Regions from separate parts of the Homo sapiens genome. Here all the other regions are linked to region 1. The links come from fine-mapping of genetic effects on gene expression. A gene starts in region 1. Each other region holds a variant in brackets. All regions are shown on one strand. Distances are between the middles of the regions. Region 1 holds the start of LY86 (lymphocyte antigen 86). Region 2 overlaps LY86 (lymphocyte antigen 86). Region 3 overlaps LOC101928004 (a long non-coding RNA gene).

Evidence for each region. PIP is the estimated chance that this variant, and not a neighbour inherited with it, causes the effect.
Region 2: its variant is the best candidate, but not a certain one, in a credible set for the expression of LY86 in whole blood (INTERVAL, PIP 0.61).
Region 3: its variant is the best candidate, but not a certain one, in a credible set for the expression of LY86 in whole blood (TOPMed, PIP 0.85).

What each region holds. Positions count from the first base shown.
Region 1 is chr6:6,585,951-6,590,227 of GRCh38, reverse strand. LY86 (lymphocyte antigen 86) reads right to left here and starts at 1,508. Exons shown (of 5, transcript NM_004271.4): 1 at 1,358-1,508. The coding sequence starts at 1,493. All of the region lies in intron 1 of LY86-AS1 (LY86 antisense RNA 1), which reads left to right. RefSeq lists enhancers at 2,982-3,111, 3,122-3,211.
Region 2 is chr6:6,609,931-6,613,930 of GRCh38, reverse strand. All of the region lies in intron 1 of LY86 (lymphocyte antigen 86), which reads right to left. All of the region lies in intron 1 of LY86-AS1 (LY86 antisense RNA 1), which reads left to right. Among named protein-coding and RNA genes, the nearest start is that of LY86-AS1, 11 kb to the left of the region's middle. The variant T/C (reference allele first, on the strand shown) is at 1,958.
Region 3 is chr6:6,743,348-6,747,624 of GRCh38, reverse strand. All of the region lies in intron 2 of LOC101928004 (a long non-coding RNA gene), which reads left to right. Among named protein-coding and RNA genes, the nearest start is that of LY86-AS1, 120 kb to the right of the region's middle. The variant G/A (reference allele first, on the strand shown) is at 2,581.

The sequences.
Region 1 (4,277 bases):
CCACTGGGAGTCTTGGAACGTATTCCTAGCAGACTGGGGGGGGACTACGGTATCTTAGAATGTGACTGTATGTGGAGATAGGGTCTTTTTTTTTTTTTTTTTTTTTTTTAAGACAGAGTTTCGCTCCTCTTGCCCAGGCTGGAGTACAATGGCACGATCTTGGCTCACTGCAACCTCCACCTCCTGGGTTCAAGCAATTCTGCCTCAGCCTCCCAAGTAGCTGGGATTACAGGCGCGTGCCACCATGCCCAGCTAATTTTATATTTTTAGTAGAAACAGGGTTTTTCCATGTTGGTCAGGCTGGTCTTGAATGCTTGACCTCAAGTGGTTCACCCTCCTCAGCCTCCCAAAGTGCTGGGATTACAGGTGTGAGCCATCATGCCCTGCTGGAGATAGGGTCTTTAAAGAGCTGATTAAGCTAAAGTGAGGCCATGGAGGTGGGCCCTAATCTGATATGATTGTGTACTTATAAGAAGAGGAGATGAGGACACAGATGTACACAGAGGGAAGAGCACATGAGGAGACAGGGAGAAGATGCCACCTAGAAGCAAAGAAGAGAGGTCTCAGGAGAAACCAGCCCAGCTTCCAGAGCTGTGAGGAAATAAATCTGTTATTTAAGTCCCCAGCCTGTGGTGGTTTGTTATGGCAGCCCTAGCTGACTAAGACACAGCCCGATTGGTTGGTTCTGACACTTCTTACCACAGTTCACTGCATTCTCTTCACTGAATTGCAATTATCTGTTGGCGTATTGGGTTGGCCCGCTGGGGTGACAGGCCTGGCATATGCACTTTTATTATCTCTAGCACTGAGAAACCCTGGCATTGATAGCTGCATGCGAAGTGCTTGCTGAATTCATGAGAGCTACTGCTGCAGTGAAAGCTCTGAAAGTGTCCAGAGAGGGACAGGAATCTTCTCTTTGGGCAGAAGTGATCTTTTCACTTCACTTGCAAAGTACATCAGATGGAAAGGTAGCCCAGGTGTACGGTGTTGAGGAAGGGCCTACTGGAAGCTGCTTTTCCTAATTTTCAGCTGGTGAGGTTTGATGATTTGGTAGACTCACTGATCATTTTGTTCTTTTTTGGGTTCTGTGGTGTTAGTAAATGGCTATATTTAGATTCAATTTCTCTTTCTTGTACTCTTTGTTGTTCTGCCATTCTCTTCCGCTCCCAGTCCTGGCCCCACCGCTCCTTCTTCCAAAAGCTCCCAGTGGCCCTCCCAGACCTGCTGCAGGTGGAGAAAGTGTTCAGCTGCTGGTCCCCTCTCCCCTCCCACCCCAACTCCAACTGAGCACTAGCGGCTCACATCTGTGGGCCTTGCTTTCCCCATAAACACACATGGGTGTACTGCAAGGGCTTACCGCAACTCTGGTAGAGCACTTCCAAGCCGCTGTCGCTACAGACCACGTGTGTGGGCCAGGCTTTCCCACCGCCGCCTCCACTGCAGCTGGGAAAAATCAGAGTCCAGAGGAAGAGAGTGGCTGTGAAACCCTTCATGGTGGGGGCCTGTATGGGACACACAGAAAAATAACCGGCCAATAAAAAGCCTGTAAAATTTCTTCCTCTCCCCTCACCAAGGCAGTTGGATGTTCAGTTTCACTTCTCAAATTTTAGACTCGCTGGGAACCACAGTCAGAAGTAAAAGGCTGAGAGCAGAGGCATTTGAATACTGTTCCCCCAGGACCTTGAATCTACAGGTGTGGCTGGTCTGGTCTGGGGTAGGATGCGTGCTGACTTTCTGCTTTCACAGGGAGAGGGTCAGTAGTGATGCGTGAACTTACCTCTTGGGGGCCCCTCAGAACAGCCTCCACCCCCAGGTGAGGCTGTAAACTTGGGAAAGACAAAGCGCAGGCCACCATCTGTTTCCCATCTCCAGCCCCCGAGTCTCTGCAGGCTCTTGATGCAGGCTGTGTATGGACCCAGGGACCTGGCTGCAGCCAGCAGGCAGCAGTTGATAGCACGAGGGCTACAGAATGACATTTGGAATCTGGAATGAGGCTTTGGCCCTATTGTCACTTTCCTCTCCTCTGGCTTTGGCTCTGCTCTTAGGTTTGGGATTTTAGCAGTGAATTGTCCAGCTGCAGAACAGACCTTGTTTTGGGAGCTGCAGATGTGGTCTCTGGAGATGAGGCAGAGGCAATAGCCCTGAGAAGTGAGCCGTGTTCTATTTCTGGGTTTGGCTTGGTAGAAAAAGTAGGAAGGGTGGGGAGGTGGGGCCACCCTTAAGGAGGCTGGTTTGCTGGTTTTGGTGTTAGTGGGATCATTGACATCACATCTCACTTTCTCTTCAAAGCCAAGATTCTGTCTTCCTTCTTCCATGTATCTCTATTCTGCTGCAGGACAGCAAGGTTTCTCAGTCTTGATTCCTCAACCCCGCCCCAGCTTCACCTTAATGTAAGAGGACCAGAGTCAGTGCCAAGGTCAGCAGATTTCAGGAGCAATAGAAAACACTATTTTCCCTGGGAGGAACAGCATTTTTCTGAATGCACTAGGTAAATTTACTATTTCTGCTGATGGCTAAGCAAAAATTAGAGTTAGCTCAAAACTTTTTTTGAAATAGGTGGAACATAATTACCAATAAATTAATTGGTAAATAATTTGGATTTCTTGATAGACATCAGAGAGTGGTCATTTGGAGAAGGAACAGTTGTGGATTGATTATTTTTAGGTACCTCTGCAAATAAGTTCAGTGATGATGGCTTTCAACAGCAGTTCTCAAAGTGCGGCCTGGGAAGATGACAGCCTCAGCTTCCACTGGGGGCTTGTTAGAGATGCAAATTCTGGGCTACTCAAGACCTATTAAATCAGAAACTCTGGGGGGCGGGACTCACCATTCTGGATTTTCACAAGCCCTCCAGGTGTGCCTGATGCAGTCTCAAGTTTGAGAACTGCTGGCTTTTACAGAACATAAAGCGAAGGTTGAGCCCCAAGGGAGTGGTGGGAAGTTGCTCTAAGAAGAGACAAGGTGGCCCCTCTGGCCTGTGTGAGCGGAAGGCAGCTGCGCTGTGAGCAAGATCTCGGGAGATGAGAGTCTGAAGCTTATGGTGAGAGCAGCGGCCCTGGTGGAAGCGTGGTAGCCCCTAGAAGGTCCAGGATGGAACACAGAAGCTTTCCCTTGGGATATGTGAGTGCTCCAGCAGTTGTAAAGAGAGCTCTGAACATATGTGAGTGAGGAGAGCAATTGAGGGTGAGAACTTCCTTCCCTGCAAAGTGCGTCATGATTGACACTGGAGGAGGAGTCCAGGAGTGCAGGGCAGGGAGCAGAAAACCTAGCAGAGAGCTGTGGGCAGCTGTGGCAGGGAAATGGTCTTAGTATGTTCTGGCTGCCATAACAAATACCTTAGACTGGGTGGCTTAAATGACAAGCATTTATTTCTCACCATTTTGGAGGGTGGAGGTCCAAAGTTGGAGATTAAGGTGCTAGAAGATTCAGTGTCTGGTGAGGGGCCTCTGGTTCACAAATGGTGCCTTCTGGCTGTGCCCTCACATGGTGGAAGGGGCGAAGGGTTTCTCTTAGGCCTCTTTTATAAAGGCACTAATCCCATGTATGAGAGCTCCATTCTTATGACCTAATCACCTCCCAAAGGCCTTTCCTCCTAATACCATCACCTTGAGGCTTAGGATTTCAACATATGAGTTTGGGCAGGGCCACAAACATTGGCTTTATTGCAGAAACAGTGTCATCTGAAGACAGGGGTACAGATTCTTGAGAATCAAAAGACCTGGAAATGAAAGGAATCATAATTCAGGGATCGCACTAGCATTTAGAAATATTCCAAATGGACCAATCAGGAACCTTGTGATCATGGTGACCCTAGGACATTGGTCTTCAGGCTAGAGTGGTCTTCAGGGCATCAGCGTCAGCTGGGGGGCTTGTTAACATGCAGATTGCTGGACCCCACCCCAGAGTTTCTGCTCCTGTGTGTCTGGTGAGGCCTGAGAACCTGTGTTTCTAACATGTTCCCAGGTGATGCCAGTGTTGTTGATCTGGGGCCACATTCTGAGGACCTCTGGTTTAGCTTACAGAATTTGATCATTTGCAGAATGTACAATTAAAAAAAATCTTCTTAATAAAATGTTTTGTTTTATGACAGATGGCATTTTATATAACACATATATAACATACCCATATAGGATTAAGAGTAAGCCACATTCTCTAAGGAATTCTACTTACTAGTTCTGCCTACTGAAAATGGGATTTGATTGAAATCATTAGTTATGGCCGTCTAGTTCAGAAATCAACCCATAATGATGTCTGGAGTTCTTTAACTAGAACCTTTA
Region 2 (4,000 bases), 24 kb before region 1:
CTGAATTCCCCACTCTAGCAACACCTTGCTTCGCTCTTTACACTGCACTGTGGGAGCTGGTTAAGTGTTCGAGGAGTGACTGAAGGAAGGCGGATAAACCATCAGGCAGGGAAAGTAAGGGGCCCTATTGAGAGGTGACAGCATGCTGGCAGCCCTCGCTCGCTCTTGGGGCCTCCTCGGCCTTGGCGCCCACTCTGGCCGCGCTTGAGGAGCCCTTCAGCCCGCCGCTGCACTGTGGGAACCCCTTTCTGGGCTGGCCAAGGCCGGAGCCGGCTCCCTCAGCTTGCGGGGAGATATGAAGGGGGAAGCGCAGGCGGGAACCCGGGCGGCGCGCGGCGCTTGCGGGCCAGAGCGAGTTCCCGGTGGGCGTGGGATCGGCGGGCCCCGCACTCGGAGCGGCCGGCCTGACAGCAAGCCCCGGGCAGTGAGGAGCTTAGCACCTGGGCCAGCAGCTGCTGTGCTCGATTTCTCACCGGGCCTTGGCTGCCTCCCGGCGCGGCAGGGCTCAGGACCTGCAGCCCACCATGCCTGAAGTCTCCTCCCGCTCCCCACTCCCCCGCTGTGAGCTTATGAGCAGGCCAAGCCTCCCCGACGAGCAGCGCCACCCTGCTCCATAGCGCTCCGTCCCCTAGACTGCACAAGGGCTGAGGAGTGCGGGCGCACGGCGCGGGATTGGCAGGCAGCTCCACCTGCGGCCCTAGTGCCGGATCCACTGGGTGAAGCCAGCTGGGCTCCTGAGTCTGGTGGGAACTTGGAGAATCTTTATGTCTAGCTAAGGGATTGTAAACACACCAATCAGCCCCCTGTGTCTAGCTCAGGGTTTGTGAATGCACCAATCCACACTCTGTATCTGGCTACTCTGGTGGGGACTTGGAGAAGCTTTATGTCTAGCCAAGGGATTGTAAATACACCAATCAGCACTCTGTATCTAGCTCAAGGATTGTTAACACACCAATCAGCACCCTGTGTCTAGCTCAGAGTTTGTGAATGCACCAATTGGCACTCTGTATCTAGTTAAGCTGGTGAGGACTTGGAGAACCTTTATGTCTAGCTAAGGGAATGTAAATACACCAATCAGCACTCTGTATCTAGCTCAAGGTTTGTAAACACACCAATCAGCACTCTGTGTCTAGCTCAGGGTTTGTAAATACACCAATCAACACTCTGTATCTAGCTAATCTAGTGGGGAACTGGAGAACTTTTGCATCTAGCTCAGGGATTGTAAACGCGACCAATCAGCACCCTGTCAAAACGGACCAATCAGCTCTCTGTAAGACAGACCAATTGGCTCTCTGTAAAATGGACCAATCAGCAGGATGTGGGAGGGGCCAGATAAGAGAATAAAGTCAGGCTGCAGGCTCCACTAGTGACAACTGGTTGTTTCGTTGCTTTTGTGTGGTTGGTTTGTTCTTTTGCTTTTTGCAGTAAGTGTTTTTGTTGTTTACACTTTGGGTCTGCATTGCTTTTATGAAGTGTAACACTCCCCATGAAGGTTTGCGGTTTCTTTTATGAGGCCAGTGAGACTAGGTACCCACTGGGGGAAAATAAATGATTAACACTCCAAATGTATCACCTTAAGAAGTGTAATGCTTACTGCGAGGGTCTGCAGTTTCACGCCTGAAGTTAGCAAGGCCACTAACCCACGAGAAAGAAACTCAGAACACATCTGAACATCAGAAGGAATAAACTCTGGACACGCCCTCTTGAAGAACTTAACTGTGAGGGTCTGTGGCTTCGTTCTTGAAGTCAGTGAGACCAAGAACCCCCAAATTGTGGACACATCTATCAATCTTAGGAGTTGTTGAGCTGATTTTTGGAAATAATCAGCTTGCTTTTGGATCTTCTCAAATCTTGCTAATACATTGGCTTTTTAACATCTTCAATTTGCTCTCTCCTAATACAAGAGACCACAAAGATTATTTTCATAGTGTTCAGTACTCAGTTAAGGGGGTAGATA[T/C]CCTTTCAAGTAGATTGCTTGGGACACGTGCTGGAAGTTAAGAGCAGCTGGCAGAACACAGCAGCAGTCTGATTTTTTTCTTATTTTTGGTAGGTGCAGAAAAAATGGAAGGAGAGATGCTAGATTGACAGGAGAGACAAAAGCCCTGCTATTTTATCGGTCCGATTGTTAAAGCTTTTTGAGCCCGTACTGTTTGATAGGCACTGTGCTAGATGTGGGATACAAAGGTGATTTAGTCTTAAGCATAGCCCCTGACTTTCAGGAGAAAGGGGGGACAAACACGACCGGCGCGCAGCGTAGCCACAAGGTGCGGTGAGAGAACAGGGAGGCACCAGTGTGGGTGACAGGAACTGCCACACGGTGGACAGGTAGCAGCGCTTTGCCTTGGAAGCTGTGGAGGCGGTTTTGTGTCCATTCATCTTAAGTATATTCCTATATATTTCCAAATACTTGCAGTAATTACAGATGAGTGTAATAACAGTGATCACTTCTATAGCTCTTTCCACAGCAGGTCCTGTTCTGAGCCCTACGTATGTATTAGCTGAAATCCTCACAAAAGCCTTAAGAGAGATGCTATCATCCGTGTTTTAGAATTGGGAAAACTGAGGCAGAGAGGGTTTATGGAAAGTGTGCAGGTTGAAAACCTTGTACTGGGCTGGAGTAGGAGCCTATGTTATGTAGGCTCTTTTCTACCAACTCAGGCACAGAGAATAATATATACAAAAAAACTCAAGTCCCAAAGACTGTGTATTCTGGGAACTTCACGTTTGTCAACAAAAGCTCTTCATAAAATCAAGTCAGTTGTGCTTTTGTGACCTTCATTTTGAATCATATAAATGCAAACAGTCCAGCTTGTTTCTTTGAAAGGCTGGAGGTCGGAGGTGGCTGGTGTTTGCTCAGACACGGCCAGATCTTAACGGTCCTAGAATCACCCCTGGAAGGACAGTGGAAAAACAAGATAATTTTCTTTTCCTCTATTGCTTAAAGTGGTATCAGAAAGGTAGACTTCTGTCTTCTTCCTATATATTTTCAAAGAAGGAGCCTTCCTTGGCAAAATACAAATTTCTGTGGCTGCTGGGGTCAGAAAGAGTTTCCACCGTCATCACAGGCCTTCATCTTGCAGGTAAGCTCAGACATGCTCACCTTCTTACTGACTTTGCTGAACATCGCTCATGTTGTGGAATAGAATTTCTACACCATTTGTGCTCATAGTGTGACATCAAAACCAGTATGTCCTTTGCAGCCCTTAAATACACACATGAGAATGCACACACACACCCCACAAAACAAAACCCCAGCCCTCCCTCGCTTTGGCCTTCTAGCTTGACCATTTTAGGGCAGACTGTCTTGGTATGTTCCTAGGGACAGAAGCTTCCATGTAACTCAGGCAGTAAATCAGGGCATCAGCTAGCACTCACCTTGCCCCCCCCTAAGCTTCCGTTTCTTCACTTGTAAAAGGAGGAACTGAGCACTATTTTAAGCTTCATGCTTCCTTCCTGTACCAGGCTTCTCAGATGCCCCAGAGGCCAGGGCAGTGGAGCCCAGACTCTGGGGGCTCAGGGCCTGCACTGTGGGTCATAAAGGCAGAGGGAGATGCGTAGCCTCAGGCTCAAGAGCTTCAGGCCATTTTTTTAAAATAAAATCTTTTTATCTTGAAATAATGATAGACATAGGAAGCTACACAAAGAGTACAGAGGTGCCCTGTGTACTTTCACCCACTTCCCTTCATGGTAACATCTTACAGAACCACGTATCAAAACCTAGTCATTGACACTGGTGTACTCTACAGACTGTACTCAGGTTTTAGCGGTTTTCACACGCACGCACGTGTTCGCTCTTGTAGTTCTATGCAGGGTTACTGCGTATAAGCACCACCATACAGATCCTGGCTGGGCGTGGTGGCTCATGTGTGTAATTCCAACACTTTGGGAGGCCTGGGCAGGAGGATCGCTGGAGCCCAGGAGTTCACGACCAGCCTGAGCAACATAGACCCTGTTTCTACAAAAATAGAGGCCAGCACCCTTCCTTGCCAGTGCAAACGTT
Region 3 (4,277 bases), 160 kb before region 1:
CCCGTGAAAGGAGTTTTCACTCTGCATGGGGCTTGCAGTATTTTAAGCCATCACCTCATCAGCACTTGTGGCGATGCTTCTGCCATGCCGCTGTTCAAATCTTAGAGCCTGCCCTGCAAGCAGAAGCATCCATTTCACCTACTGGTGCATTCAGTCATTTCATCCTTCACTTAGTATCCAACAAACACTTACTGATTGCTTGCTCTCCGGACAGCCCTGTGGACACCACCAATGGGGTGGGAGATGCATGTGTTATGTGTGACTGCATACGTGTGGTATGTGCGTATCTTCATGTGTCTCTGTGTATGTGTGTGCTATGTGAGTAAGCATGTGTATGTGTGTGTCTGTGTATATATAAATATATGTGTGCCTCTGTATCTCTGTGTGTTTGTATCTGTGTTGCGTGTGTTTGTGTGTGTCAGTGTCTGTGTGTGCGTGTGTCTGTGTCTCTGGGTATGTCTGTGTGTGCTTATGTGTGTGTCTGTGTCTGTGCATGTCTGTGTGTATGTCTGTATGTGTGCATCTGTCTATATGTGTGTATGTCTCTGTGTCTGTGTGTATATGTCTATGTCTCTGCGTGTCTGTGTGTGTCTGTGCATGCATGTGCATGTGTCTGTGTGTTCCTGTGTGTATCTGTGTGCCTGTGTGTGTGAGCTCACAGCTCTGGAACTTACATGCAGAAATAGGCATACACAATCGTGCCCACACACACCAGTTGCATGCTTATTCCTACTCTGTGGCTCTCAGGCTGCATGAGTAAGTCCCCAAGCCATTTCCCTCCCCGGTCAGAGCAGCCACCTGCTTTCAGGACAGCAGCTGCCATTTATGTTTCCATTTCTGGCACCCAGTGACCTCGCTGAGAGCGGCTGAGGAGAAACAGACACCGACACCCCGTCCTTATCTGCAGCAGCTCCCACAGAACCACAAAAAGGGGTATCTTCAAGGGTGGTGGCACAAAGCAAGGACGGCGATGACGGGGGTCAGGAAGCTGCTCAGGACATTGCATCGCCCCAAACTTTCTCCCCACAAATGCAGTTGCCTCTGCCCTGATTACGATTCCTGCCAGATACTCCGAGCAGAATGCACTTTTGCCATGGCCAGGCATTTTCCATGTTACTCTGTGCCAGCGGTGGCTCTGCATCTGAGACCTGCCATTCTGCACACTCAGGATTAGGTCTTAGTTTGGGAGCTGGGGCTCTCGGTCACTCCCAGCCCCCAGCAGGCAGATGTGCAGACCCCCTCGCAGGGGACATGCAGTGATCAGAAAGATCTAGGGAATATGGTGTGGTAGAGCAGCCCCGGGGACTCTCTAGATCCGACCCCAGAGGGTAAGTGGGACGTGGCAGCTTTCATTCAGCTGCAGGGGAGGTGAAGCCTTCCTCTAAGCCCCTGAAATTGACAGGTGACAGCGTCCTGGCCGCCCTTACACACTCTCCGCGCCTCCCCGGCCTTGGCGCCCACTCTGGCAGAGCTTGAGGAGCCCTTCAGCCCGCCGCTGCACTGTGGGAGCCCCTTTCTGGGCTGGCCGAGGCCGGAGCCGGCTCCCTCAGCTTGCGGGGAGGTGTGGAGGGAGAGGCGCGAGCGGGAACCGGGGCTGCGCGCGGCGCTTGCGGGCCAGCGCAAGTTCCGGGTGGGCGTGGGCTCCGCGGCCCCGCACTCCGAGCGGCGGACCGGCCCGCAAGCCCCGGGCACTGAGCGGCTTAGTGCCTGGGCCAGCAGCTGCTGTGCTCGATTTCTCGCCGGGCCTTAGCTGCTTCCCCACAGGGCAGGGCTCGGGACCTGCAGCCCACCATGCCTGAGCCTCCCCCCACACCGCCGTGGGCTCCTGCATAGCCCAAGCCTCCCCGACAAGCGCCGCTCCCTGCTCCACGGCGCCCAGTCCCATCGACCACCCAAGGGCTGAGGAGTGCGGGCACAGGGCGCGGCACTGGCAGGCAGCTCCACTTGCGGCCCCGGTGTGGGATCCACTGAGTGAAGCCTGCTGGGCTCCTGAATCTGCTGGGGACTTGGAAAATGTTTAGTCTAGCTACGGGATTGTAAATACACCAATCAGCACTCTGTATCTAGCTCAAGGTTTGTAAACACACCAATCAGCACCCTGTGTCTAGCTCAGGGTTTGTGAATGCACCAATTGGCACTCTGTATCTAGCTCAAGGTTTGTAAATACACCAATCCACACTCTGTATCTAGCTAATCTAGTGGGGACGTGGAGAACTTTCGTGTCTAGCTCAGGGCTTGTAAACGCACCAATCAGCACCCTGTCAAAACGGACCAATCGGCTCTCTGTAAAATGGACCAATCAGCAGGACGTGGGTGGGGCCAGATAAGGGAATAAAAGCAGGCTGCCGCGCTAGCAATTATAACCTGGTCGGTTTTCTTTTGTGGTGTGTGTTTATATTGTGCGAGTTCTGTTCTTTTGTTCTGCGGTAAATCTTGTTGTTGTTTGCTGTTTAGGTCTATGTTCCCTTTATGAGCTGTAACGCACACCATGAAGGTCTGCGGCTTGGCTATTGAGTCAGTGAGAGCGTGAACCTACTATTAGAAGAAAAACTCTGAATACGTCTGAACGTCAGAAAGAAC[G/A]AAGTTTGGACACATTGTCTTTAAGAACTGTAACACTCACCCCAAGGGTTTATGGATTCATTCTTGAAATCAGTGAAACCAAAAGCTTTCCAAAGTTTAACACACAGGGTAAGTCTGGGGTGGTCCAGCCTAGATAAGGGTTTGGTTTGCTGGGGTGATTTAATGTAGGATTATTGTCGGGCATAAGGGCAGTTTCTGACAGCTGGGGAGGATTGTAAAGAAAACCCATAATCCTTCAGCCCTGTTCTGCGTGGCCCGTGCTGTGGGTAGGATACCCTAGAGAACAAACTAGGGTAGAAGGCCTGGGGCCGGCAGACTGATCATGTGATGCTTAGCCTAACTACTATTCTCTCTAATCCTGCTAGTAGTAGATCTGCCAGTGTTCCATCTTAGCTGATGTTACTGGTGCTAGGGGAGTGACCTTTTGTGGCTTTCCAGCCATTAGCCCCTGTAGGATAGACTGGTTTGTACTGGTGCAGTCTGTTTAAAAACATGCATTCCTCATGGCTCATCAGTTTTGTGTGTTAAGTCTCGCCATGCAGGTGGTCTTAATCTTGTTTTCAACTTGTAGCTCTGCCATACCTGTCTCTCTAAGGAGACCTAACTATTGCCTACTTCCCACCTGCGGCCATTCATCCACCAGGCCCAAGCTTATGGGTGTTGAACAATACAGCTACTTATTTTTGACATTGTGTCTTTATGTGTGTGTCACTCCAGTGGAAGTCAACCCAACCGTGGGTAGGAGACAATACATGTATGAGGAAAGGGATCACAGGTACAGAAGTTCACAGAACTAATGCACTTTTTCACATTTTGGTGCTCATAATGCATTTTCCCCCTATAGATATGATTTGAGAAAGAAGACACTGAAAGAATGGAGGAATAGACACCAAGTTAATAAGGGTTCCTAACTGATGAATTTCACTCTTAGGATGGCTGAGCCAGAGACCACCATTTCATTCTTTTTGCTGTGCCCTGCCTGTTTCGATGGTTTTCCAGGATTCCCAACGTGATAAGTGTGTCCCAGTGTGACGTTATTTAATCTATTCTGGCAATTCAGTGTCAGTATCCGTTTTCCCTTCAAATATTTCACCAAAGTATTTATGCCCCACTACTGTATTTCATTGATTGTAAGATACACGCTGGTTTTTATTAGCATTTCTGAAGTTGAAATGCGTGGAACATTGGTGGTGTGTCATAATACTTTAGGATTTGTTACTTAGTGGTACACCAAATAATGGTAGGTTGATGGTGTTTTAGATTGCCTCGAGAGTTCCTCAATCAGTAATAGTAGTTCTAATAACTCCTTTCCCAACTATGGGGAGAACACAGGCTCCTTTCTGTACCTGAAAGAATCTTGCAGGTGCTGCCCTCAACGTCTACTCCAAACCTACTTGACTCTATCTCGGTGACTGGCTTCAGTACTTTAACCTCCTACTTGGTGTTGGCTTCCCAGCCTGGGTCTCGACAGGGCTGGCCATTGGTCTGAATCCTTGCTTTGCCTCTGGTCTCCATCCTCTGCCACTTCTTGGCTCCGTACTCTGCAGTCGGCAGGCATTTGCACGTGCGTGAACACCTGCGGGGACTCGGCTGCCTGCTTGCCAGGGCCATGAGACCTGAAGGAGGACACAGCCTCTCCTTTTTGCTTTTGTGTTCTCATCGCTTTGCCCAGTTACTGGCACATGGTAAGGACCCCT